Regions from separate parts of the Homo sapiens genome. Here all the other regions are linked to region 1. Evidence: fine-mapped expression QTL. A gene starts in region 1. Each other region holds a variant in brackets. All regions are shown on one strand. Distances are from middle to middle.

Region 1 (8,184 bases):
GCGCAGTGGCTCATGCCTGTAATCCCAGCCCTTTGGGAGGCCAAAGCGGGTGGATCACTTGAGGTCAGCAGTTCGAGAACAGCCTGGCCAACATGGCGAAACCCCGTCTCTACTAAAAATACAAAAATTAGCCAGGCACGGTAGCGCACACCTGTAGTCCCAGCTACTAAGGGAGGCTGAGGCAGGTGAATCACTTGAACCTAGGGGGCGGAGGTTGCAGTGAGCCAAGATCGCGCCACTGCACTCCAGCCTGGGCAACAGAGCGAGACTCTGTCTCAAAAAAAAAAAAAAAAAAAAAAAAAAAAACCTACTGAAGATTCAAGTGATCTGGCCTCCTTACTTCTCCAATCTCATCTCTTCAAATTCTTCCCTTGGCTCAATGCATTCTAGCCACACTGACCTTTCTTTTCTTCCTTCCTTCCTTCTTTCCTTTCCTTCATTTATGTCCTTCCCTCCTTCCTCCTTTCCTTCTTTCTTTCATGGGGTCTCACTCTGTTGCCCAGGCTGAAATGCAGTGGCACGATCATAGCTCATTGCATCCTCAAACTCCTGGGCTCTAAGGATCCTCCTGCCTCAGCCTCCCAAGTAGCTGGGACTACAGATGTGAACTACCATGCCTGGCTTTTTTTACTGTCGTGTGTTTATTATTTTAGAGATGGGGGGGTGGGTCTCGCTATGTTGCCTGGGCTGGTCTCGAACTACTGGCCTCAAGCTCGATCTTCCCATCTCAGCCTCCTGAGTCACTGGGATTACAGGTGGAAGCCACTGCACCTGGCTTCTTGCTGTTTCCTGAATATACCAAGCATGCTTCCACTCAGGGCCTTTGCCCTTGCTGTTCTCTCTGCCTAGAACACATTTCCCCCAGATGTCCACCTGACTCACTTCCTTCCAAGTGATTAAGATGATCAGTCAGATGGGGGAACCATCCTACAGTAGAGAAATGAAGCCTGATATTTTTTTTTCCTCTTTGAGGTTTTATACTGGGTAATTGACAGAAACTTTTTATTTTTAAACATTTAGAGTTCCGGACTCTTAGAGTCTAACTACTTACCATGTACTAGGCACAATTGCTAATTGAATGCATTATATCAATTTAATTCCTGCAACAACCTAATGTAAGTACTATTCTTTTTTTTTTCTTTTTTTTTGTTCGTTTGTTTGTTGGAGATGGAGTTTCACTCTTGTTGCCCAGGCTGGAGTGCAGTGGCGCGATCTTGGCTCACTGCAACCTCCGCCTCCTGGGTTCAAGTGATTCTCCTGCCTCAGTCTCCCAAGTGGCTGGGACTATAGGCGCCTGCCACCATACCCGGCTAATTTTTGAATTTTTGAGTAGAGATGGGGTTTCACCATTTTGGCCAGGCTGGTCTCGAACTCCTGACCTCAGGTGATTCGCCCACTTCGGCCTCCCAAAGTGCTGGGATTATAGGTGTGAGCCACTGCGCCTGGCCGGTTAGTACTATTCCTACATCCAATTTACAGATGAGAAAACGGAAGCTTGTAAAGAGATTAAAACTTGCCCAAGAAAATAGAGTAATAAGTTACTGCAGAGCTTGAATTTGAACCCAGGCCTCTCTAACTCCAAAGCTCAAGTTCATAATTATTTGACCTTGGAGCAAAATTTAAATAAATTTCATAAAAAATCCTTTCATCCTCAATTATGTAAATTGAAAAATATTGCAGATAGAAAGAGAAACCCAGAACTTTGAGTCCCCCATTATCTTTCAATTTCACTCTAAGAAGTGCATCTGTCATTGGGTTTCTCAATATCAGCTCTGCTGATGTTTTGGGCTGGATAATTGTTTGCTTGTATGGGGGAGGGGAGATTGTACTGTGCACTGTAGGATGTTTAGCCGCATCCCTGGCCTCTGCCCACTAGATGCCAGCATCACTGCCCCCCTCCTCAAGTTATGACAACCAGAAACATTTCTGGTTGACGCTGCCAAATGTTCACAGAAAAGAACCACTATATTAGATGATGATACTTTATTTCTGTCTTCTAAGTATGTGCAAACCCTGGTGTTTGTGGAAAGGTGATTTATTTAAAATAAGTTTACTTGGTTTAGTCAAAATAAGTTTACTTAGAAATAAATCTTGTAGAGTACAGCCCAGCATTAGCCAGCTGTATTAGTTTGCTAGGACTGTCATAACAAAGTACCACGTACTGAGTGGCTTAAACAACAGAAATTTATTTTCTCATTGTTCTGGAGACTGAAAGTCTAAAATCAAGCGTCAACAGGGTTGGCCTCTCTCCTGGGCTTATAGATGGCTACCTTCTTGTTCACGTGGTGTTCTCCCTCTATGCCTGTGGCCTAATAATATCTTCTTGTAAGGACACCAGTCAGATAAGGGTCCACACTAATGACCTCATTTCAATTTAATCACGTCTTTGAAGAACTTATGTCCAAATACAGTCACATTGAGTTACTGGGGATTAGAACGTGAACATACGAATTTTGGGGGGGACACAATTCAGCCCATTAACATTGAGCTTAAGTCTTTTCTCCCCTCCCTCCCTTCCTTTCTGTGTGTATTGAACACCTATTATGTGCCAGACATTCAGCTAAGTGGGGGTAATGGTAAGCAACAAACATGGTCTCTGCCCGGTAAGGTTTACAGTGAGGTAGGACAGACAGACTTAAAGAGTAATAACAAGTGCCATGCAAATATTATGCTTTGGTAATGGATGCCAGGAAAGCCTTGCCCTTCCCATCAGGCTCCCAACCCGGCTGGGCGAGTGAAAGGACTGCGTTATGAGCTAACCGGCTGGGCACGGTGGCTGACGCCTGTAATCCCAGCACTTTGGGAGGCCGAGGTGGGCGCGAGTTGAGGTCACGAGTTCGAGACCAGCCTGGCCAACATGGTGAAACCCCGTCTCAACTAAAAGTACTAAAATTACCTGGGCATGGTGGCACATGCCTGTAATCCCAGCTACTCGGGAGGCTGAGGCAGGAGAATCGCTTGAGCCCGGGAGGCGGAGGTTGTAGTGAGCCGTGATCGCGCCACTGCACTCCAGCCTGGGCGATAGAGCAAGACTCCATCTTAATAAAAAAATTAAAATATTGGCCGGGCGCGGTGGCTCACGCCTGTAATCCCAGCACTTTGGGAGGCCGAGACGGATGGATCACGTGGTCAGGAGTTCAAGACCAGCCTAGCCAAGATGCTGAAACCCCGTCTCTACTAAAAACACAAAAATTAGACGGGCGTGGCGGCACGTGCCTGTAATCCCGGCTACTCCGGAGGCCGAGGCAGGAGAATCGCTTGAACCCGGGCGGCAGAGGTTGCAGTGAGCCGAGATCGCGCCACTGCACTCCAGCCTGGGCGACTCTAGAGCAAGACTCCGTCTCAAAAAATAAAATAAAAATAAAAATATACATATTTTTTAAAAACTGAGCTAACCACGAGGTTAACGAGTCAGCCACTTGTGAAACCGGGAGACGCGCGTTTGCTACAAAGCAGCAGAGGTCTGGTCTTAACCAGCAGCAAGCGCCACCTCAACCCGCCCTTTTCTATGACGCAGAGTCTCTCCCCCTCCCTCCCTGACTCCGCCTTTTCCCTGCTTGAGGCCCTGCCCCTCGCGTCCTCTCTGGCTTGCTGCGCACCCTCCCACAACGCGTCTCCCTCGGCTCTAACAATAGGAGTCAGTCGGCCACGCCTGCGTCATAAAGCCTGGGGGCGGGCCCAGCCGGCGACGGGAGGCGGGGAAAAGCGACGCAAAGAGTCGCGGCGCCATTTGCTGCCGCCGAGCGTGGACGCAGGCGGATCTCTGAAGAGCTGGGTCGCCAGCCTCTCCCGCGCACGTTGCCTGGCCTCCAGCACCTACTTGGTCCCGCGCGCTCCCTCGTGTCGCCCCTCGGAGCAGCAGCCGCCGCGGTCGCCGCTACCCGGAAAGAAGTCAGAGACGCCGCGAGGTCGCCGCCACCGCCATGCCCAAGAATAAAGGTAATGCCGCCCGGACCCCCGGACCACGGCTCTGCTCGGCCGGGTCTCCCAGGTCCTGCCCGTAGATTGCAGGTCACCCAGGCCGCAGTGACCCTTTTTCCTTCCCGCCCTGCCTGCCCGCGGCTGGGCGCCCCACACGCGACTCTGAGCTCGGGAGAGGAGCTGGGAAGTTAACTCCTGTTGCCCAGTTTGGTCACATTGGGGTGGAGCCGGCGCCATTTTTGTAGGGCCTCCTGCGGGAGAATGTGGGCTTTTGCTCCTGATTCGCGCCAGACTGACCGCTGCTCGGTGGGGACGGTGGCGGGAACCTTCCCCGGGGCGGCCTAGGTTTAGTAGATAGGCCCCTTTGGCCTTCCCGGGCATGAGGGGTTATAATCCCTGGAAGCCGTTCTGAACTTTCAGAGTGCTGTCTGCATTCGTGAGCACCAGGTACTCCTGCATGGGTTTCTTTATGGACAGTTCAGTATTGTTGAGGCTACTCGCTGTCCCTTGTGAACAGTGGGTGAAACCTTGATACATTTCTAAGGCTCACCTCTAGAGATTTACTCTCTCCATCCCTTTACAGGATATAGCTTATGTTTGTTTGCTGAAGACTTATTCCATATTGAGCCAAGTTTTCTACTTTTGCTTCAGATGATGCATATGTTGTGAGAATAAAGACCTAATTTAAGTGTCCTCCATTCTGAGGCTAAGCGTTCACAAATGATCAGACTTGAGGATAACTTTATTTGGGATTTCCAAAACGGAAGGCCTAATCTTAAAAAAAAAAAAACAAAAACAAAAAACAGAACACTCCTAAAGAAATTACTTTTATAGATTTACAGTGTTCCTGTCATTTTTAATAGCCGTATAACTTGAAGAAAATTGTGCAAGTAAATATAGGGAAAATACTGTATTTTCCTACAGGAGAGGAGCATACTTCATAGTCCGTAAGTAGTCTCCTTTGATTATTCATTCTAGAGGAAACCCTCCCCTGACACAGGCCTACTTCTGCTCTCTTTTCTACTTGACAGCTGGCTCCAGGGATTCTACCACATTTCCTCTTTGTAGCTGTCACTTATTACTTTATCCCTTAGGGTACTTGGTCGAGGTGTTCTGTGCACAAGTTGGTGCAGTCACTGCTCATTATTTTGGAAAAGATGGAGTTATAAACAAAAAATTTTAAAGTCTTACAGTTTTCTTCTGTATAATCCTTTATTCTCTCTGAGGTGGTAAGGGGATCACTTCCATCTTATTCTCACCTTTATTTCTAGTAATAAGATTTCCAATTCTTCCACCAGGCTGTAAGCTCTACAAGGCAGGAATAGTATCTGTCTTAATCTCATTGGATTGCCAGCACTTGACAATTAGTAGATGCTTAATAAATATTTGTTGGTTTAAGTCACCTACCTCCTGTCGACTCCACCCTTAGTGAATAATAGGTTCTGCTTTGGTTCCAAGGGGATAGGACTTCTACACTAAATCACATCTAGTTCCCTAGCCTCATGTCTTAAGAAAGAGCCTCTCTGGGAATTTCTCCAAAACAACTCTGGTTTAAAGAATGTTGATGTCACTTTAATTGTTGTACACTCAGACCTAGTCTCATTCATTCAACAGAGAATTTAAAGAACATCCCATTACATGGCAATAAAATACAAAGGGGAGTGATCCGGGTATGGTTAATTCTGGTAAATTGACAAGTAATTAGTCTTTTCTTAAATAACATTTGAGGCATACAAAAAATACAGCTAACATGATATACCTGGGAACCCATTACTCTGAATTTAAGAATTACAGCGCAGATTGAGGTAAAGCCCTAATCACCTTTTACTCTCTTTTTGGAGGTAATCACCAGGCTGAGTTTGGTGTTTATCATTCCTGTACTGTCTGAAACCAATCAGTTCTTAGTTATCTTACTTAGAGGAATGGTACTTTTCATGACCTAATTTAAGTGTCCTCCATTTTTTTTTGCTGCTTCCAAGCTCTTCCCATGAGTCTCTTAGGGTCATTACCACTTACAGCCTTTTTCCTGCCTTTTGGAAATGGCTGCCAATGTGGTTTCCTTTCTGGAATGGGAGCAAAATGCTGTGGAGAGGTAAGCTTATGTGGGGGCTAGGGGCAAAAAAAACATTGTGACTTTGGTCACCCCAGCTTACTGACTGTAATCAGTGAACTGATTTACTCACTGAAGCTAAGCGACTTACTTAACTTCTCTGAGCTTCAGGGAACTCATGGGTAAACTGGGAATAAATGAATGTTATGACCTCATGGGGTGATTGTGACAAGTAAATGGGCAGAATTATTGCATAGTGGTTAAGAGCATGGTCACTGGGGTCATATAATAGAAACAGGGATGTTGAGTAGGGACCAGCATTATAAAAGAAAGTAAATTGGGTACCGAACAGATCTTCTTTATTTTTTAAGAGACAGTGTCTCGCTATGTTGCCCAGGCTAGCCTGGAACCTCCTGGGCTTGCTCAAGTGATCCTCCCACCTGAGCCTCCTGAGTAGCTGAGACCCTAGGCGCACACCACTGCACCCAGTGAGATTTCAATATTTATGGTACTCTGCTACCAAAAGTTTGAAAACCACAGTTCTCTGTCCAGACACTGTCTTCACTTAATTTTGAAAGTATCGGGTTCCTTGCATAGGGCCTGGCTTTAGAAGACACCCAAGATTTCCGCTTAGAAGAATATGTATAGAATTGCATTTTTATTTCAAAAGGATGGGTGCTAAAGTGAAATGTTTTTCTATATTTTTTAACATAATATCTGCTATTTATGTGTATTTTATGTCAGAAAAATCCCCAAAGGAAATTCCAAGAAGGGTAGGGAGGTGATAATGTGTTAATGTTGGGATTGGAGATTGTAAATTTAATATGATTGTGTAGCTAAAATAGATGAATTTTTTAATTTAAGTGATCTTTTAAAAAATGGTTTTATAAGCCTTAATTTCATTTTATTTCATACTGTTTTACAGATAATTAATGTCATTTACCTCCTTTTCTTTTTTTTAAACCATCAGGTAAAGGAGGTAAAAACAGACGCAGGGGTAAGAATGAGAATGAATCTGAAAAAAGAGAACTGGTATTCAAAGAGGATGGTCAGGGTAAGTGTTTTCATAAATTACGCTTTTTAAAATAACATCCTTTCTTTTTTAGCTGGGGACTTTATTTTTTTGAGACAGCGTCTTGCCCATCGCCCAGGGTGAAGTGTGGTGGCACGATTACAGCCCACTGCAGCCATGACCTCCTGGGCTGAAGCAGTCCTTCCACTTCAGCCTCCCGAGTATTTGGGACTACAGGCACACACCACCACGTCTGGCTAATTTTAAAAATTTTTTTAGGCTGGGCGCAGTGGCTCACGTCTGTAATCCCAGCACTTTGGGAGGCCAAGGCGGGCGGATCACGAGGTCAGGAGTTCGAGACCAGCCTGACCAACATGATGAAACCCCGTCTCTACTAAAATTACAAAAATTAGCTGGGTGTGGTGGCACGTGCCTGTAATCCCAGCTACTCAGGAGGCTGAGGCAGGAGAATTGTTTGAACCTGGGAGGCGGAGGTTGCAGTGAGCCGAGATCACACCACTGCACTCCAGCCTGGGTGACAGAGGGAGACTCTGTCTCAAAAAAAAAAAAAAAAAAAAAAAAAAAACTGTATAGAGATGAGGTCTTCATATGTTGCCCTGGCTATTCTCGAACTCCTGGGCTCAAGTGATTCTCCCACCATGACCTCCCAAAGTACTGGGAACTAAGAATGTGTCGTATAGTTCAGAGGGAATTGAGCTATGGTTGACAGTTCTGTGATTTAGTTGGCAGTTCTATGATTAGCATTTCTGGTAGTGAATGGTACATATAATATGTTGAGTAGACCATGGACATTTGAAGGATGAGCCTGAGGCCCTTATAGACCTCTCCATTCTCCAGTGCCATTAGCATATAACTTCGTAAACTACAATAAAATGAAACTGAACAGTTAACTGATTTTATTAGACTGAAGAATATTGTAAGTGCCAGACCAAGATACATAGCACTAGTCAAATAAATCCTAACTGGATCGTTTGCCCTTTCCTGTTACTTTTATTTCGAGTCATTTCAAACCTACAGAAAGTTGCAGTATTAGTGCAACAAACTCCCTTAAATCCTTCATCTGTACACACACATATAAAGAAATATATATGTGGGATTTTTTAATTTTTTTTTTGAGATGGAGTCTCGCTCTGTCGCCCAGGCTGGAGTGCAGTGGCGCGATCTCGGCTCACTACAAGCT
Region 2 (8,184 bases), 37 kb after region 1:
AAAAAATAAAATAAAAAAGAAGCATGCTCTCAATTTATGCCTTTATTCTTTATTGCAGATTGATAATGAATAATAAAGAGATTGTGCTCCCTCCCCACAGCCCATCAGGGTTAGGCTGCTCAGGGTTTCCTGAAGAAAAAAACAAACAAACAAAAAAAACGTAAAAAAGAGAGACTGGCACCTGTCCACAGGACACACTTTGAATAGCTCTGCCCTGGGCCAGTATTTCCCAAAGGGTATGGTACATAAGAGGGTTTTAGATTGCATGTGGACAGACTTATCTTTTTAACTTTAGATTAATAGTTCTGTTGATTCTTCAATTTATTTTAAAACTACAACTAGTACATCATGCTACAGTTTCTGAATATTTTCAGAATGAGTAAAAAGTGAAAAAACTACAAAAACTAAGCGAAAATAAGTCAATTTAAAGAAAAAGACTATCCACTGGGCCTGGCGTCTAGGAAAAAAATTTTAAAAATAAAAAGACCAAATAATAGAAGTCAGTGCTGGCTAATACAAACAGAATGCTAGCCACATATGTAATCTTAATTTTTCTAGTAGACACATTAAGAAAAAGAAACGGTGAAATTAATATAATACAACTTACTTAGTCAAGTATGTTCCAAAATATTATCTTTCAGCATGTAATTAATTAATTAATTTTGGGGGGGGCGGGAAACAGAGTCTCTCTCTATCCCCCAGGCTGGAGTGCGGTGGCGTGATCTTGGCTCACTGCAACCTCTACCTCCCCGGTTCAAACGGTTCTTATGCCTTAGCCTCCCAAGTAGCTGGGATTATAGGCACATGCCACCACGCCTAGCTAATTTTTGTATTTTTAGTAGAGACAGGGTTTCACCATGTTGTCTAGGCTGGTCTTGAACTCCTGACCTCAAGTGATCTGCCTGCCTTGGCCTCCCAAAGTGCTGGGATTACAGGTTTGAGCCACCGCGCCCAGCCCCTTCATCCTCTTATGTACCAAGTTCTCTCCCTTAACCACACTTTCCTTCCCTAAAGTAGGTAAAATTTGGCAAAACAACCAACCAATCCTGGCTTCCCCTGTGTGAAACCAGGTCCCTCACAATCCTCTCCAAGGATGAGCATTCCTTCTGTCTCTGCTGAAAGAACCAGACAGCACATTAGATTTCATCATTTTCCCCACCGCCCTCTGCTGTGGGCTACCCCGAGCCTACCGCCCTTGCCGTCATTACTAAACCTCCAAAGTTCATCAGCTCTGTGTGTAGTCCTTTTTTTTTTTTTCTTTGTAGAGGCAGGGTTTCGCGCTGTTGCCCAGGTTGGAGTGCAGTGCTGCCATCACAGCTCACTGCAGCCCCAACCTCTCAGGCTCAAGCGATCCTCCCACCTCAGCTCCCAAGTAGCCAGGACCACAGGTGAGTGCCACCATGCCTGGATCATTTTTGAATTTTTTTTTTAAATAGAGACAGGTCTCATGCTGGGATTACAGGCATGAGCCACCTCACCTAGCCTCAGCATGTAATTAATATTAAACGTTATTAATGAGATATCTGACATTCTTTTCTTTGCAGCAAGTCTTTGAAATTCCATGTCTATTTTACACTTCTAGTGTGTCTCCATTTGGACTGTTTGCGTTTCACGTGCTCAATAGCCAACTGCGGCTAGTGGCTACTGTATTGTACGGCACTGACCTAGAGCATTTCCATCACGCAGGGAGTTTTGTGGTCTACATTGAGTCTCATGGTGACTAAGTATTCAGTGTGATGACTGTGCTGTCAAGTATGGCGTGAAGCACAGTATGTGTGCTGTGGTAGTGAGTCCAGCTTGGATCTCTTCTTCATGAATGTAGAGGAAATGGAAACACACTTTGATGGAATGGGCTCCCCCATATCAGGCAAAGCAGGCCCGGATTCCCCAGGCTTTTGAAGGGATATCCTGATTTTGCTTTCCCCAGCCTGGGTGAAGGGAGTGCACCAAGGCTGTGACTAGTGGGTCCTCACACAGATTATTGTCTTGGGGACCTGATAGACTGTGGAAAGGGGATGGACTTGGCTTTGTGGGAATTATTAAGCTGTCATCGAGGAAAAGTGCTAAGGTTTGAATGTCCATTCCAAAACTCATGTCAAAATTGCCATTGTGATGGCATTAAGAGATGGGACCTTTAAGAAGTGAGTAGGCCATGGGGCTCTGCCCTCATGAGTGGATTATTGTTGATAGTGGATTCGGTTTGGCCCCCATTTGCTCTCTCTGTATCATGGGCTTGCTTGCCCTTTTGCCATGTTTTGATGCAAGAAGAAGGCCCTCACCAGATGCCAAGCAGATGCTGACACCACCAGCATCCAGAATTGTGAGCCAAGTAAATTTGTTTGTTATAAGTTACCCAGTCTGTGGTATTCTGTTATAGCCACTGAAAACAGACTAAGACAGAAAGCATGGTATTGAAAAAACATGGAACCATAACTGTGGGAGGAGAGAGCTGTATTAGCCAGCTTAGGATCTCCTGGGTTTGGTGTTGGGGTCGGGGTCAGGAATCCCTGCTGCTGGGTAGGGTCTGCTGAGTCGGGATTCAATGGGCTCTGTGAGATTCGATCTGGTCATCTTCCCCAGCTGGTGTCATGTCTTCCTAGTGCCTTGTCCACAGAAGCCACTTGCTGATTCTGACCAATAGGTACTGATTGACTGTTAGGACAGATGCCCTAACTCTGGGAACTACACCATTAAACAGGGAAGTTCCAGTGTATCTGGGCTGGTTCTGCCTCCATCTTTCTAGGTTTGATGTGAAAGAGCTGCCATTAGTTACAGATGGCCTTAGTGGACTGATTACCCAGCACCTGCTTCAGGGCCTGCAGGATGAACCCCTTCCCAGACCAGCTTGTCTCCTTCCTGAGCAGTTGGTCTGTCTTCACCGTTGGTCACTGATTCCTTCAGAGTTGACTCTTGGTTTAGCAACTCAACCAGTGTGGTACTCTGGTTGCTGTGGTAGATGTATGGGATTAACGTCCTTTTCAGCTCCATTTTTTATCCCTACCCTTGTTTTTCTCTTTCTCTCCTACTTTCTGTATTTATTTCTACTGTATTTTATATAAGCAATCTTAATCTTTTCTGGAAGGAGGGAGGGAGGGCAGGAAATGACCTCGCAGCTGGAGTCTCACCAGGCACCTGCAGCCCTTTATTAAGCAGTGCTCTATGTCCCTGTTTCAGAACAACACCTTAATATGTGCTATTAACTTGAAGTAACCGTCTGAATCGTAAACTGGGCAAAACCGAATTCTGCTGATGTGCTTATTCTTAAAAACAGCCCCCCATGGGATTCCTGTATGTTCTCTTCCTTCAATACCTAGCGCGTTTTCAGCACTACATTTACCAGAGGGAAAGTGTATTGTTCATGGGGATAGCATCACCTCTTAGCAGGTGTTGCTCTTTTCTACCCTATTAATTGTATTTGTTTAGTTTTCTTGATCACCAGTCAGGGGTGACAGTGGGTGGTGAAATACTGTGACAGCCTTCAGTGGAAGCTTTCCTTGTACCTGGGTAATTTTTCCCCTGGTGGAGATACGTGTTATGAATAAAATTTAGCATTGATCATTTTCATTAGCTAGATAATCAATATTTTTAAGCAGTTGTAGTTATGTCTACAGACCAAAAGCTCTTTTAAAAAAATCACTAATTCTAGGCCAGGCGTGGTGGCTCATGCCTGTAATCCCAGCACTTTGGGAGGCCGAGAGGGGTGGATCACCTGAGGTCAGGAGTTCGAGACCAGCCTGGCCAACATGGCGAAACCCCCTCTCTACTAAAAATACAAAAATTAGCCGGGTGTGGTGGCGCACGCCTGTAACCCCATCTACTCGGGAGGCTGAGGCAGGAGAATTGCTTGAACCTGGGAGGCAGAGGTTGCAGTGAGCTGAGATTGTGCCACTGTACTCCAGCCTGGGCTACATAGCGAGACTCTGTCTCAAAAACATCATAAACTAAACATTAAAAATTATGCATTTTAATTGCCATTTTCTTACTGCAAAACATGTTCCTGCTCTCCCTTTTTCCTCTCCTCACCCACCTAAATTTCCACTTCACTTGATTTTACTTTTGCCAGTCACAAATTTTTTTCTGAAGAATAATTGCTTCTTATTAATAGTCCATTGAGCTCCACATATCCCTAATCTTCTGGGATGAGATTAACCCTTTTTATAGAAGAACAATTAAGTGAGGAAAATGGACTGTTTCACTATACCCTGTTCAACTTTAATTTCTCTTAGTTGTGTTTTAGTTTCTCTGTTTCAACCAAGAGGCCCAAGGGTTCTCAGTGCCTTTCTACTGGGGAGTGTTGAATGTCCTTTGTGGTACATAGTTTTATCTTTACTGCTTAAAAATCAAAAGGATTATTTACACTTTGGCATGTAAAGATTATATCAGAGCAAATGGCTCTTAATTCAAGCAGAGATAAGACATGCAAGGTACAACACTGTCCAGTAGAACTTTCTGTGATGTTGGAAATGTTCTAGGTCTGAACTGTTCCATATGATGGCCACTAGCCACATGTGGCTGTTGAGCATTGAAGACCTGAGTTTTTAATTGTTTCTAAATTTAAAAAAATTGAATTTATATCAGCACATATAGTAGTAGCTTCTGTATTGGACTGTACAATTAACTAG[C/A]TGTTGACTAACCTCGACAGATTAGGATCAGGAATGAGGAAGGAGTTTCAGATCTCAAACAAAGTTACTTCAAACCCACCTACTCTTGGTTTCTCCTGTACAGGCTTTGATATTTGGCACTTGTCATTCAACCACTCTCAGATGCTGGTAGGCCACCAAGAACAGAACCAGCAGTTAGCTCCTTGACACTGTATCAGGTCTGTAGGACAGTGATCGAACTGGTAGACAAGACTTGTTCCTGGCTCCGTGGTGGCCCTGGAGTGCCCACAGTCAGCCAATCCTCTCTGTCCTGTCTCAGCTTTTCAACTTGGCACAACTGAAGAGTAAAAACTGGAGCCAGGGTCTTTAGTTTCACAACTTGGTTGGAGAAACCAGATTGACTTACAAGCCATTACCAAACCATTAGATAAAACCAGTAGCTAGCTATGCAGGATTTGGGTGAGCTGTGGGCAGAGCTTTTCCAGCAAAAGGTTGGCAGGGACCTCAACCACACCCTAGGCCAGAGAACCCCGTGGCAGGAAGTGAGGTTGGTGGGGGCATTGGATGCCTTTGCTGAGTTAATCGTGTTCCCTGTTCTCTAGCAAGTACTCAGTAAAATGGATAAGTCTCAGCTCTTTCATTCTAGCTTGCTCCTTACAAACTGCGGCCTCAGACATTGGCCCCTAGAACTCAGTTGCTTGTCTGTACAATGAGATTGTACACAAGGTGATCTTACTGGTGCGTTCCAACTCTGTGATGCTGTGATCCTCCACAGCTGGCCTAGGAAGCAGAGGGAAGCATATGGCTGCTATCTACCCTTCTCATTAGTGGGATCACCAGCCACATAGCTTAGAACGACTCCCCCCCACCCCGCCCATTACAGCCAAACCCGAGGGTTCTGCCTTCTTTATCTCTCATGACCGCATCCCCATGGCCAGTGCTTTGGGTCAGACTCTGTCATCTAGAGCCTCACCAGTATCAGAAGAACCTTAGGGATCTCTGTCCGTCCGTCCAGGTCACCGTCCCTGTCATGGATCCTTCATGTCATTCTCTTGCTTTAATCTCCTCTGACACTTGCCTAGCACTTCTTAAAGAGTATATTCTAAACTGCTGTTGGAGTTTTCAGGCATGTTGGAATGGGGCTCCAATTTACCCCTCCACCCCCATCTCTCTGGCCTGTAACCACTCCCGCTCAGAATGTTCAGCACACTTTGCACGTGACTGCTTGTGTACATGCTGTTCTCTTCACCTGGAATTCTTTTCCTCTCTGTGTCTGCCATCTTCATTCCTGTCTACCCTGTTCATCTTTCAGTACTTGGCTCACACCTCACCTCCTCTCTGAAGCCTTCCCCAACCACACACACTTTTGATGGTTTTTTCCCTTCTTATTCATTTTCCATTACAGCATTGATTATGAAAATGCAGATAAACCATGTGCAAATAAAACTGGGACTGGCACTTGGAAACTAAAGTACACAAATCTTAAGTGCACAGTCTGATTATGTATACAACCATGTAACCCACACCCAGATCAAGATGTTAAATACTTTCAGTACCCAGAAGGCTCCTTCATGCCTCCTCCTAGTCAATACTTCTCTCAAAGGTAACCACTGTTCTCACCTCTTTTCACTATAGATTTGCTTTGCTTATTTTTAAATTGTATTAAAATAGATTCATTTAGGAGATACTTTTTTATTGTGATAAAATATATGTAACATAAAATTTACTGTTTTAGCAATTTTGAAGTGTACAGTTCAGTGGCATTAAGTACATTCATGTTGTTGTGCAGCCACCACCACAATCCATCTCCAGAACTTTTTCATCAAGTATATCCTTCTTTGTGTCTCTTTTTGTTTTCTTTTCACTTGACATTATGTCTGCAAGATTCACCTATGTTGTCACAGGTACCAGTGGTTCATTTCTTTTTATTTCTGAGTAGTAGTACTTTGTGTGACTGTATCACAATTTGTTTTATCAATTCTCTTGCTGGATGGACATTGTTTTTTTCCAGCTTTTTATTCTTTTGACTAAAACTTTTATGAGCGTTATGCTTGTGCAGATACCTTGATGCCCATACATTTCTGTTGGGTACATACCTAGAAGTGGAATGGGATCTGAAATGTCACTTCATAGATTCTATATAAAGAGTGTTTGTAACCTCCTGAATCAAAACACAAGTTCCATTCTGCGAGATAAAATGATACATCACAAAGCATTTTCACAGTTAGCTTGTTTCTAGTTTTTATCGCTTGATATTCGATTTTTTCTTATAGGCCTCAATGGGCTCAGAAATGTCACCTCGTAGATTCTACAAAAAGAGTGTTTCCAACATGGTAAATCAAAACACAGGTTCCATTCTGTGATAGGATAGGCATGTCTTCAGCATTAGCGGATATTGCCAAACCATTTTCCAAAGTGGCTTGTATTCATTTCTTATTGCTGCTATAACAGATTATCACAAACTTTAGTGGCTTAAAGCAAAATAAATGTATTATCTCAATTCCAGACGTCAGAAGTCTTAAAATCAAGGTGTCAGCAGAGCCTTTCAGGATGTGCTAAGGGAGAATCTGTTTCCTTGTCCTTTCCAACTTCTTTTTTTGTTTGTTTGTTTTTTTTTTTTTTTGAGACGGAGTTTTACTCTTGTTGCCCAGGCTGGAGTGCAGTGGTGCGATCTCGGCTCACCGCAACCTCCGCCTCCCGGGATCAAGCGATTCTCCTGCCTCAGCCTCCTGAGTGGTTGGAATTACAGGCATTCACCACCACACCCAGCTAATTTTATATTTTTAGTAGAGACAGGGTTTCTCCATGTTGGTCAGGCTGGTCTCGAACTCCCGACCTCAGGTGATCTGCCTGTCTCAGCCTCCCAAAGTGCTGGGATTACAGACTTGAGCCACCACGCCCGGTTGTCTTTTCCAGCTTCTAGAGGCTGCCTGCATTCCTTGGCTCATGGCCCCTTCCTCCGTCTTCAAGGCCAGCATCATAGCATCTTCCAATCTCTTTCTCTCTTGCTCCTTCCCCTCCCTCCCCCCCAGCTCTACTTCCACTGTTACATCTCTTCTCTCTAACTCACCTACCTCTGTTGTGATTACCTTGGGCCTACTTGGAAAATCCTGGATAATCTCCCCATCTCAAGAGCCTTAACTTGATCACATCTAGAAAGGTCTTTTTGTTATATGGGATAGCATATTCACAGGTTCTGGGAGCTAGAACATCGACAGCTTGGGGCCAATATTTTGCCAGCCACATGGCTGTACCATTTTGTATTCCCACCACAGTGCATGAGAGTTCTAGTTCCTCTCCATCTTTGTCAGTACTTGGTATGGTCAGTCTTTTGAATTGTAGCTATACTGGTGGAGATGTAGGGGCAAGTCCAAGGCTGCCACCCCAGGCAGTGCATCCTCCTTTGCTCCAGTGATAGCTTTATTGCAACTTATAAGCATTATATTATGAATATGTATTTACATTCCTCTGTCTTAGCCAAACTAAGCACCACTTCATGAGCAGGCTATATAGTAGTTGATTTAATAAAAGGTCCTTGGATGCGAAGAACTGACTGAGGGCAGTTTTCAGCAGAGCAGGGAAG
Region 3 (8,184 bases), 170 kb before region 1:
GTGGAATCATATAATATGTTCTCTTTTGTGCCAGGCTTCTTTTGTTCTTCATCATTTCTGTGATATTCATCCATGTGGTTGTGTATAGCAGTAGCTCATTCTTTTCATTGCTGTATAGTATTCCATTGAGGATATTCCATTGAATATTTCACAATTTATTTATCTATTTTCCTATTGATGAACATTTGGTTTGGTCCCGGTTATGAATAAAGCTGCAGTAAACATTCTTGAATATGGCTTTTGATGGACATAAATATACATTCCTCCTAAATATATACTTAGGAATGAAATTGCTGGATCATAGGTGGCTTTGGTAGTTACTGCCCAACAACCTTCCCAGAGGTTTTGTGCTAATTTACACTCTTACCAACAACATATGAAAACAAGCAAACAAATAAGTAAAACATCTGATAGTGAAAAAAGCAATGTGGAAAATTAAGATCAGATGATGAAGGTACTTTAGATTTGGTGACCAGGCAAGGCTTCTTTAACAAGGTGAACTTTAAGCCTGAATAACAAGAAGATGGCAGCCATGCACATGTCAGAAGAGGAGCATTTCAGGCAGAGGGTAAAACCACAAAGGCCCTAGCGCAGGAAGTAACTGAGCTTGTTTAAGGAACAGAGAGGAATCTAGGGGCCTTGGAGTAAGTGGGGAAGTGAAGACAGCAGATAAAGGGTGTGTTATTAAGCCAGCTGCCACAGTAGGTGACTGGAGCTTAATTCAGTGGGGGAAATTATGAGGAAGGGATAAAATACATGCTTCAGAATTACCCAAGAAAAGGGAATGCTTATATGCTGTTGGTGGGAATGTAAATTAGCACAACCTGGAAAACAGTAGGAACAACTCTGGAAAACAGTAGGAGATTTCTTTTTCTTTCTTCTTTCTTTCTTTTTTTTTTCTTTTTTTGGAGACGGAGTTTTGCTCTTGTTGCCCAGGCTGGAGTGTAATGGCATGATCTCAGCTCACTGCAACCTCCGCCTCCCAAGTTCAAGTGATTCTCCTGCCTCAGCCTGCCGAGTAGCTGGGATTACAGGCGCCTGCCACCACGCCCGGCTAATTTTTTCTATTTATAGTAGAGATGGGGTTTCACCATGTTGGCCAGGCTGGTCTTGAACTCCTGACCTCAGGTGATCCACAGGCCTCAGCCTCCTAAAAGTGCTGGGATTGCAGACATGAGATTTCTTAAAGAGCTAAAAGTAGATCTTCCGTTTGATCCAGCAATTCCACTACTGGGTATTTACTCAAAGTAAAACAAGTCATTGCATCAGAAAGACACCTGTACATGTATGTTTATTGCAGCACAATTCACAATTGCAAAGATATGGAACCAGCCTGAGTGCCCATCAACCAATGCATGGATTTTTAAAATGTGGCATACATACACCATGGAACACTACTCAGCCACAGAAAAAGAGTGAAATAATGTCTTTTGCAGCAACTTGGATGGAGCTGGAGGCCATTATGAGAAGTGAAGTAACTCAGGAATGGAAAACCAAATACCGCATGTTCTCACTTAGAAGTGGAAGCTAAGCTATGGGTATACAAAGGGATGCAGAGTGGTATAATGGACATTGGAAACTCAGAAGAGGGGAGGGTGGGAGGAGTGTGAGGGATAAAAGAACTACATATTGGGTACAACGTACACTACTTGGGTGATGGGTGCACTAAAATCTCAGACTTTACCTCTAAAGAAAGGAAAATAAAAGAATTAAAAAAATATTTAAAAAGAAATTATGTTTTTTAAAAAAAGAGAATTATCCTACCCAAGAGCCGAGAGACCAGGGGTCATTGGTTGAGGATTGCTGCTGGCAGGTTGGGGCTGGAGATGTTAATTTCCCAGCACATCTGTATCTAATATAGGCATTTTCTTCCATGACTGAGATTCAGTATCTTTCTCTTTATCTGGGCCTTTAACTTCGTCTTGTTTTCACTGGTCTTTCCTTGACCCTTGGCCCCACACCCAGCTCCTTGAATTCACTATTCTCTACCACTATAAATGTCATCAGCCATGTGGCCCACTTTCATTCCCATGGTCAGCCTCTCTTAATCAGGTCCACCATTTACTTTTACTTCTCCTGGACTCCCATTCACTAGGTATTCTACCTAGCACAGAGTCTTGCTAATAATAGACTCAGTACATGCATGCAGCATAACTATTGGCAGGGGATCCATAGCCATGCTGATTTGCAAAGACTTCAAATTACTGTTAAATCGCAGTTTGATTCTTGCTACTTCCTGCAATCCTTCCAATCCTTAGGTACTTCCTGGATGTTTTCCTGACAACTAAAGCCTCACTTTCTGTATCAGTTATCAGTGACCACATAATTCTGTGTAATAAAACACCCCAAGACTCAGTGTCTTTAAACAATAACCATTTATTGTGTTCACAAGTCTGTGGGTTGGCAATTTAGGCTGGGCTCAGATGGACAGTGCTTCTGATTTCAACTGGACTCACTCATGGATCTTACAGTCATCTGCAGCTCAGCTAATCTAGGATAACCTCAGCTGCAATGACTAGAATGACTCAACTCTGCTCCTCATGTCCCATCTTCCAACAGGATAACCTGGATATGTTCTCGTGGCAAACACAGAAGTAAGTGAAAACACTCAAGGCCTTTTGAGACCTGGACCTGGAACTGGCCCACCATCACTTCCACCACATTCTATTGCCCAAAACAAGTTACAGGGCCAGCCCAGATTCAAAGGAAAGGAAAATAGACTCTGGCTCTTCAGTGGATGAAATTCCAAGGTCACCTGGTAAAGGAAGAGGTGAAGAAGTAAGGTCATTAATGTAATCTTTCATACTGTAACACTTGCTTTTTGACTTAGAAGGTTGAGTGTGTTTTGTATGTCAATCACACCTCAGTAAAACGGTTTTTAAAACAAGAAGATTGAATGTTTATTTCCTTCCCTTTCAGCTCAAAGTTTCTATACTTTAAAACATCCAAATAGTACAATATAAGCAGCGCTGGCTTTTTGGTTTGAATTATTAGATATTGTTTCAGTTCTCCATTTCTATAGAGGCAGACATCAAAGACAGAAGTATGGAAAGTGTGATTTCACTCATAAATATCCCAGTAGAACTTAAAGACAATATTTTAAGTAACCAACTAAAGACTCATCTTGAACAGAAGTTAGATAACATCACCCACAATCTTAGAGTTTATTTATTTTATTTTATATTAAAGATAAGGATGTTCTCCCTACATCTGATGTCTTCACTGGAAGAGAGGCTGTGCAAAAAGGTGCTTAAATTGTATGTCATTCACAAAAGGGAACAAAGGAGCTGCCACTATTACTGCCGTTGCCATGGCCATATCATATTAAATCAGGATAGAGGAGGTTATTGAAACGGCTCTTCAAATAAGGTATCTTCTCATAAGACGTCTCTGCCAGCGAAATCAGTTGGAACATTGGGTACAGAGTGTCCAGTGGAGAGAACGTACAAAATACTCAAGCCGACGAAGATCCAGTGAATCAAATGGCCTTGCTGTGCTCCACTCAACACTATTTCTGTCTTGCATGAGGTGTGTGTCCTGAATTTGATTTACTATCTTTAATGTCATTCATCCACAGTCCATAGTATATATATGTGGATGCAGCAAGGTGCTCCAATTAGGACCTGGAAATCCACTACAGTCCAGTTGAAGCATAACGATTTGAAACATATAAAATGGTGGAGAGGAAGAGGGATGTGAAGGCAACGAGTTCCTAATGTCCTGCTTAGAAAGAAAGGGCAATGCAGAACGGTGATTAAGCAGCCAAATATCTGTGACAGTCTCAGGCTTGAGTCCAGGCTCTGCCACTGCTCGCTACGTGACTTCAGGTAGGTTTCTTACTATCTTTAAGCCTCGGTTTCTTTATCTGAAAATGAGACTACTGTTGAAACAACCTCAAAGGTTTCATGGAGGAGAAATATCAGTATGTAAAGCATTTTGCAAGGTGCCTGGCACAAAGTTAGCACTTAATTAATGAAAACTATAATTTTTGTTTTGGAGACAGGGTGTCGCTCTATTGCCCAGGCTGGAGTGCAGTGACTCAATCTTGGCTCCCTGCAACCTCCACCTCCTGGGTTCAAGTGATCCTCCCACCTCAGCCTCTC[G/A]AGTAGATGGGACTACAGGTGTGAGCCACCACACCCAGCTAATTTTTGTATTTTTTGTAGAGGCAGGATCTCACTATGTTGCCCAGGCTGGTCTCGAACTCCTGAGCTCAAGCGATCTACCCGCCTTGGCCTCCCAAAGCGCTGGGATTACCGGCATGAGCCATCACGCCTGGCCTGAGAACTATACATTTTTAAACTGGAAGGGACCTAGGAGATCTTTGTATAAAAGCTCATCATTCAGAAGATGAAAAACAACCACAGAGAAGGCTAAAGGAGTCCCACCTCAGTTACACAGCTTAGTGGCACAACTGGGGCTGAAAACCTAAGACTTTCTGATTCCTCTGCCTCTCTGTGTTATCCCTCCACCAACAAGCCCCTCTTGCCTACCCTCTTCCACACAGTGAAACTTCAATAAATAGCTAGGAGTTTTTGCCTTTCCCCTGGAAAGCCGCATCTCAGGCACAGGAAACTCTGAAAGGTATGGAATTTTCTAATGAGGCATTTGCCGCGTGCTCACTTTAATCCACTGCAAGTGTCTCTGGGAAATAAAATATTGGCAGGTCTGTCCAACAGCTGCTCAGCCTAGAGACCACAGCTTATTTTGGTCCATTTATGTTAACTCATCTGTCTCAAGCTCTTTGTTAGTGACTCACCGCATACTGCTACCAAAAATATACACCAAAAATCCAAGAATCATTCATATGAAGGGCAAACGTCTTGCTTAAAATACCACATTTCTGCCGTCGTGTTTTTATGAAGTTTTTCCTTCCTCCCGCCTCCACATCACATTTTCTTCTCTCCTTTCTTCCTTCTCCATCTTTGATCGCCTTCAGTGGCATGGAAGCTGCATGGGGTGATCAAGAGAATTCTAGAATGGATATCAGAAGGCCTGGTTCTGGTCCTGAGCTGGTATGCTTTAACTGCAAAAACCTAGCAAGTCACAACTGGTATGTGACTCGGTTTTTTCTTATCCATAATACAGGAGGGTTGTATTAGCTCTACAGTTCCCACCAGTACAACCGCCAAGAACTTCTTCATTGCTTTCCCTTGAAGGATTCCAAGCTTTGAAAGATTTTCATCTGCCACATAATCTACCTTTTAAAATAAAAATTAATATTCCCCATTTTCTATAAATTTTGAGTAAACAACCTAATTAATATACATTAGAATCAATAAATAACAATAAGCAGGAAATAAAAATGTTTAAAGTATTAAATTGACTTTTTTATTAAGATGGCTGCTATTTCAAATACTATGCCCAGATGTGTCATAGAAAAATACATCATCTTTTTTAGAATTGTTGAAATATTGAAAATGGTTCATATACTATGTCCTATATCTAAAAATAGGTGGGCACAGTGGCTCACGCCTGTAATCCCAGCACTTTGGGAGGCTGAGGCAGGAGAACCACTTGAGGGCAGGAGTTCAAGACCAGCCTGGGCAACAAAGAAGACCCGGATCGCTACAAAAAAAAATTAAAAATAATTAAAAAAATTAGCCAGGTACATTGGTGCAAACCTGTAGTCCTAGCTACTTGAGAGGCTGAGGCAGCAGGATCACTTGAGCCCAGTAGGTTGAGGCTGCAGTGAGCTATAATTGTACCACTGCACTCCAGCCTGGGCAACAGAGCAAGACCCCCATCTCAAATAAAAATAAAAATAAAAATAGACATGGTAAGGATACACAGCAACTTCAGGATGATTGTAACTTCCAGGGAGGAGGAAAAGGATGAAGATGGGGGAGACGGCCTTTGAGTATATCTGTAATATTTCACTTATTAAGACCTGACACAAATACAGGAAATCATTAACAAGTTAAATCTTAGTGATAGATACATGGTTATCAGTTATTAATATTATCCTTTCTTTTTATGATTAAAATATTTCAAAATTAAATATTTTAAATTTACAGAAGCTTATCAACTGAAACTCTTATACATTGCTGGTAAGAGTGTAAAATGCTGTAACAACTTTGGAAAACTTTAGCAGTTACTTAAAAAATTAAACCTACCCCTACCATACAACAAGGCAATTCCCTTCATAGATATATGCCCAAAATAAATGAATACACATATTCATAAAAAGACATGTACAAGAATGTTTATGCCAGCCTTATTTATAAGCCAAAAATAGAAAAGAGCCCAAGTGCCTATCAATAGGTGAAAGAATAAACAAATTGTGATATATTCATACACTGAAATACTACTTAGCTATAAAAAGGAGAGAACACCTTTTATCCAATAATATGGATAAATCTTGAAAAACATGCTGAGCAAAAAGTCACATACAAAAGAAAGAATACATACTGTGTGATTCTATTTACATGAAGTTCTAAACCAGGTCAAACAAATCCATAGTAATAGAAATCAGAGCAGTGTTTGCCTATTGTGTGGGGAGATTACCTAGAAAGAGGCACAGGGAAATTTCTGGAGCGAGGGACGTGTCTTGAGGAAATAAATATCTTTTTAAATTTTTTCTGTATTTTTAGTTTCTGTGGGTACATAGTAGGTGTATATATTTATGGGGTACATGAGATATTTTGGTACAGGCATGCAATGCATAATAATCACTTCATGAAAATTGAGTATCCGTACCCTCAAGCATTTATCCTTTGTGTTACAAACAATCCAATTATACTCTTTTAGTTCTCTTTAAATGTACAATTAAATTATTATTGGCTAGAGTCCCCCTGTTGTCTTGATTGGGGTAGTGGTTACATGAGTGTTTGCATTTGCAAAAAAATAAAAACACCTCTTCAAATTGTATGTCTGAGATCTGTGCATTTCACCCTAGATAAATTTTACCTCAATTTTTAAAAATACCTAAAGCTCATAAACTCACATACTGTTGTCAAGGACTCCCAGGAGAGCTGGGGACCTCAAGACAGGAATCAGTCCTGGAATGAGGATTCCTGCCGTGATTTTCATGTCTGAACAGTGTGAGATTTTACTTTCTATATTGCTCTTTACTCTCATTACAAATGAAGTCTTTCTTTGAGGAAGTCTTTCTTTGAGGAGGTCTTTCAAAGCAATGTGTTGTAGTGGAAAGAATATGGGCTTTAGAAATAGCCAGAGCCCTGGGTTTGAGCCTGTGCTCCCTGGCTCATTGGCTATGTGACTCTGGGCACGGAAGTGACCTCCTTAAGTTTATTTTCTTAACCTTATGCAGGAGCACGCAAAGTCTACTTCCCGGGGTTATTCGGGAGATTAAATTAGATCACACAAGCAAAAGTGTATTTCACACAGCCAGGCTCAGCACAGATGCTCCATACATTCTGGTTTCCTTTTCTTCCTTCCTTTACTTTTTATAGACCCTCTACAGAACGAAAGCTTCATATCTCCTCCATCATCACAGTTCAAATCCTGAGGATATAGGAATAGCTTCCTTGTTCCTCCTCAAAGGTAGCAAGCAAAAATGCCACACTCAAAGGTAGCAAGCAGCAAAAGGGGCTACTTCCCTGAGCCCCATGATTTAATGGGTTCTGCTCTGATACCCCCCATAGCCACATTCTTCCCCATAGGGCAGGAGTCAGTAGGGTCAAAAGGCTATGCCCATCCAGAGCCTGTGCCCCACCTAGACCACAATCCAGGTACCAGGACCCCAGAATACACTGCCCAGGGGACCAAGAGCTGGCTTCCACAGCCACCATGGTCCCCTTCCCTGGTCCATCTTCCCAACAGCAGACCGTGTTACAAATGAGCACATCTCTAGTCCCAAGGAACCATCAAAGGGCAGTTGTTTGGGGCTGTGTAAACAGAGCTTGGACACGTAGGCAGGGTGTCCATCCACATTGTGCAAGACCCCTCGTGGTGTTTGGAGGATTCTGGGGTGGGAAGAGAAAGGGAGCTTGACCTCTGGCTGGGCTCAGGAGCCAGGGGCTGGCTCACCCTGTACCATCAGGTTCTGGTGCAGAACTCTGAGGAGGCCAAGAACTCTAAATCTGGACCTGGCCTTCCAGGCCAATATTGATATGTCAAGAAGATGATAGAATACATTTTATAATATTTTATAACTTTTCACAATCAGGCATAGAGTATGTGGGTTTCCGTGTGTACTCTTGCTCTGGGCTTGCCACATGGTAG

Alleles and levels. Positions count from the first base shown, and alleles are read on the strand shown. Sizes are in standard deviations (SD) of each study's normalised expression. Not every link is listed here.
In carriers of allele A in region 2, the expression in prefrontal cortex of the gene that starts at base 3,726 in region 1 tends to be lower than with C alone (small effect, 0.27 SD a copy in GTEx).

The links. PIP is the estimated chance that this variant, and not a neighbour inherited with it, causes the effect. A credible set is the group of variants that fine-mapping cannot tell apart.
Region 2: its variant is the best candidate, but not a certain one, in a credible set for the expression of EIF1AX in prefrontal cortex (GTEx, PIP 0.85).
Region 3: its variant is the best candidate, but not a certain one, in a credible set for the expression of EIF1AX in sigmoid colon (GTEx, PIP 0.66).

The regions. Positions count from the first base shown.
Region 1 is chrX:20,137,380-20,145,563 of GRCh38, reverse strand. It overlaps EIF1AX (eukaryotic translation initiation factor 1A X-linked), which reads left to right and starts at 3,726. Exons shown (of 7, transcript NM_001412.4): 1 at 3,726-3,939; 2 at 6,942-7,025. The coding sequence starts at 3,924. EIF1AX-AS1 (EIF1AX antisense RNA 1) reads right to left here and starts at 5,596. Exons shown (of 2, transcript NR_046592.2): 1 at 5,329-5,596; 2 at 5,120-5,229. RefSeq lists enhancers at 3,615-3,664, 3,725-3,994, 4,325-4,484.
Region 2 is chrX:20,100,062-20,108,245 of GRCh38, reverse strand. All of the region lies in intron 1 of MAP7D2 (MAP7 domain containing 2), which reads left to right. Among named protein-coding and RNA genes, the nearest start is that of MAP7D2, 13 kb to the left of the region's middle. The variant C/A (reference allele first, on the strand shown) is at 4,623.
Region 3 is chrX:20,306,534-20,314,717 of GRCh38, reverse strand. No RefSeq gene overlaps it. Among named protein-coding and RNA genes, the nearest start is that of RPS6KA3, 44 kb to the right of the region's middle. The variant G/A (reference allele first, on the strand shown) is at 4,104.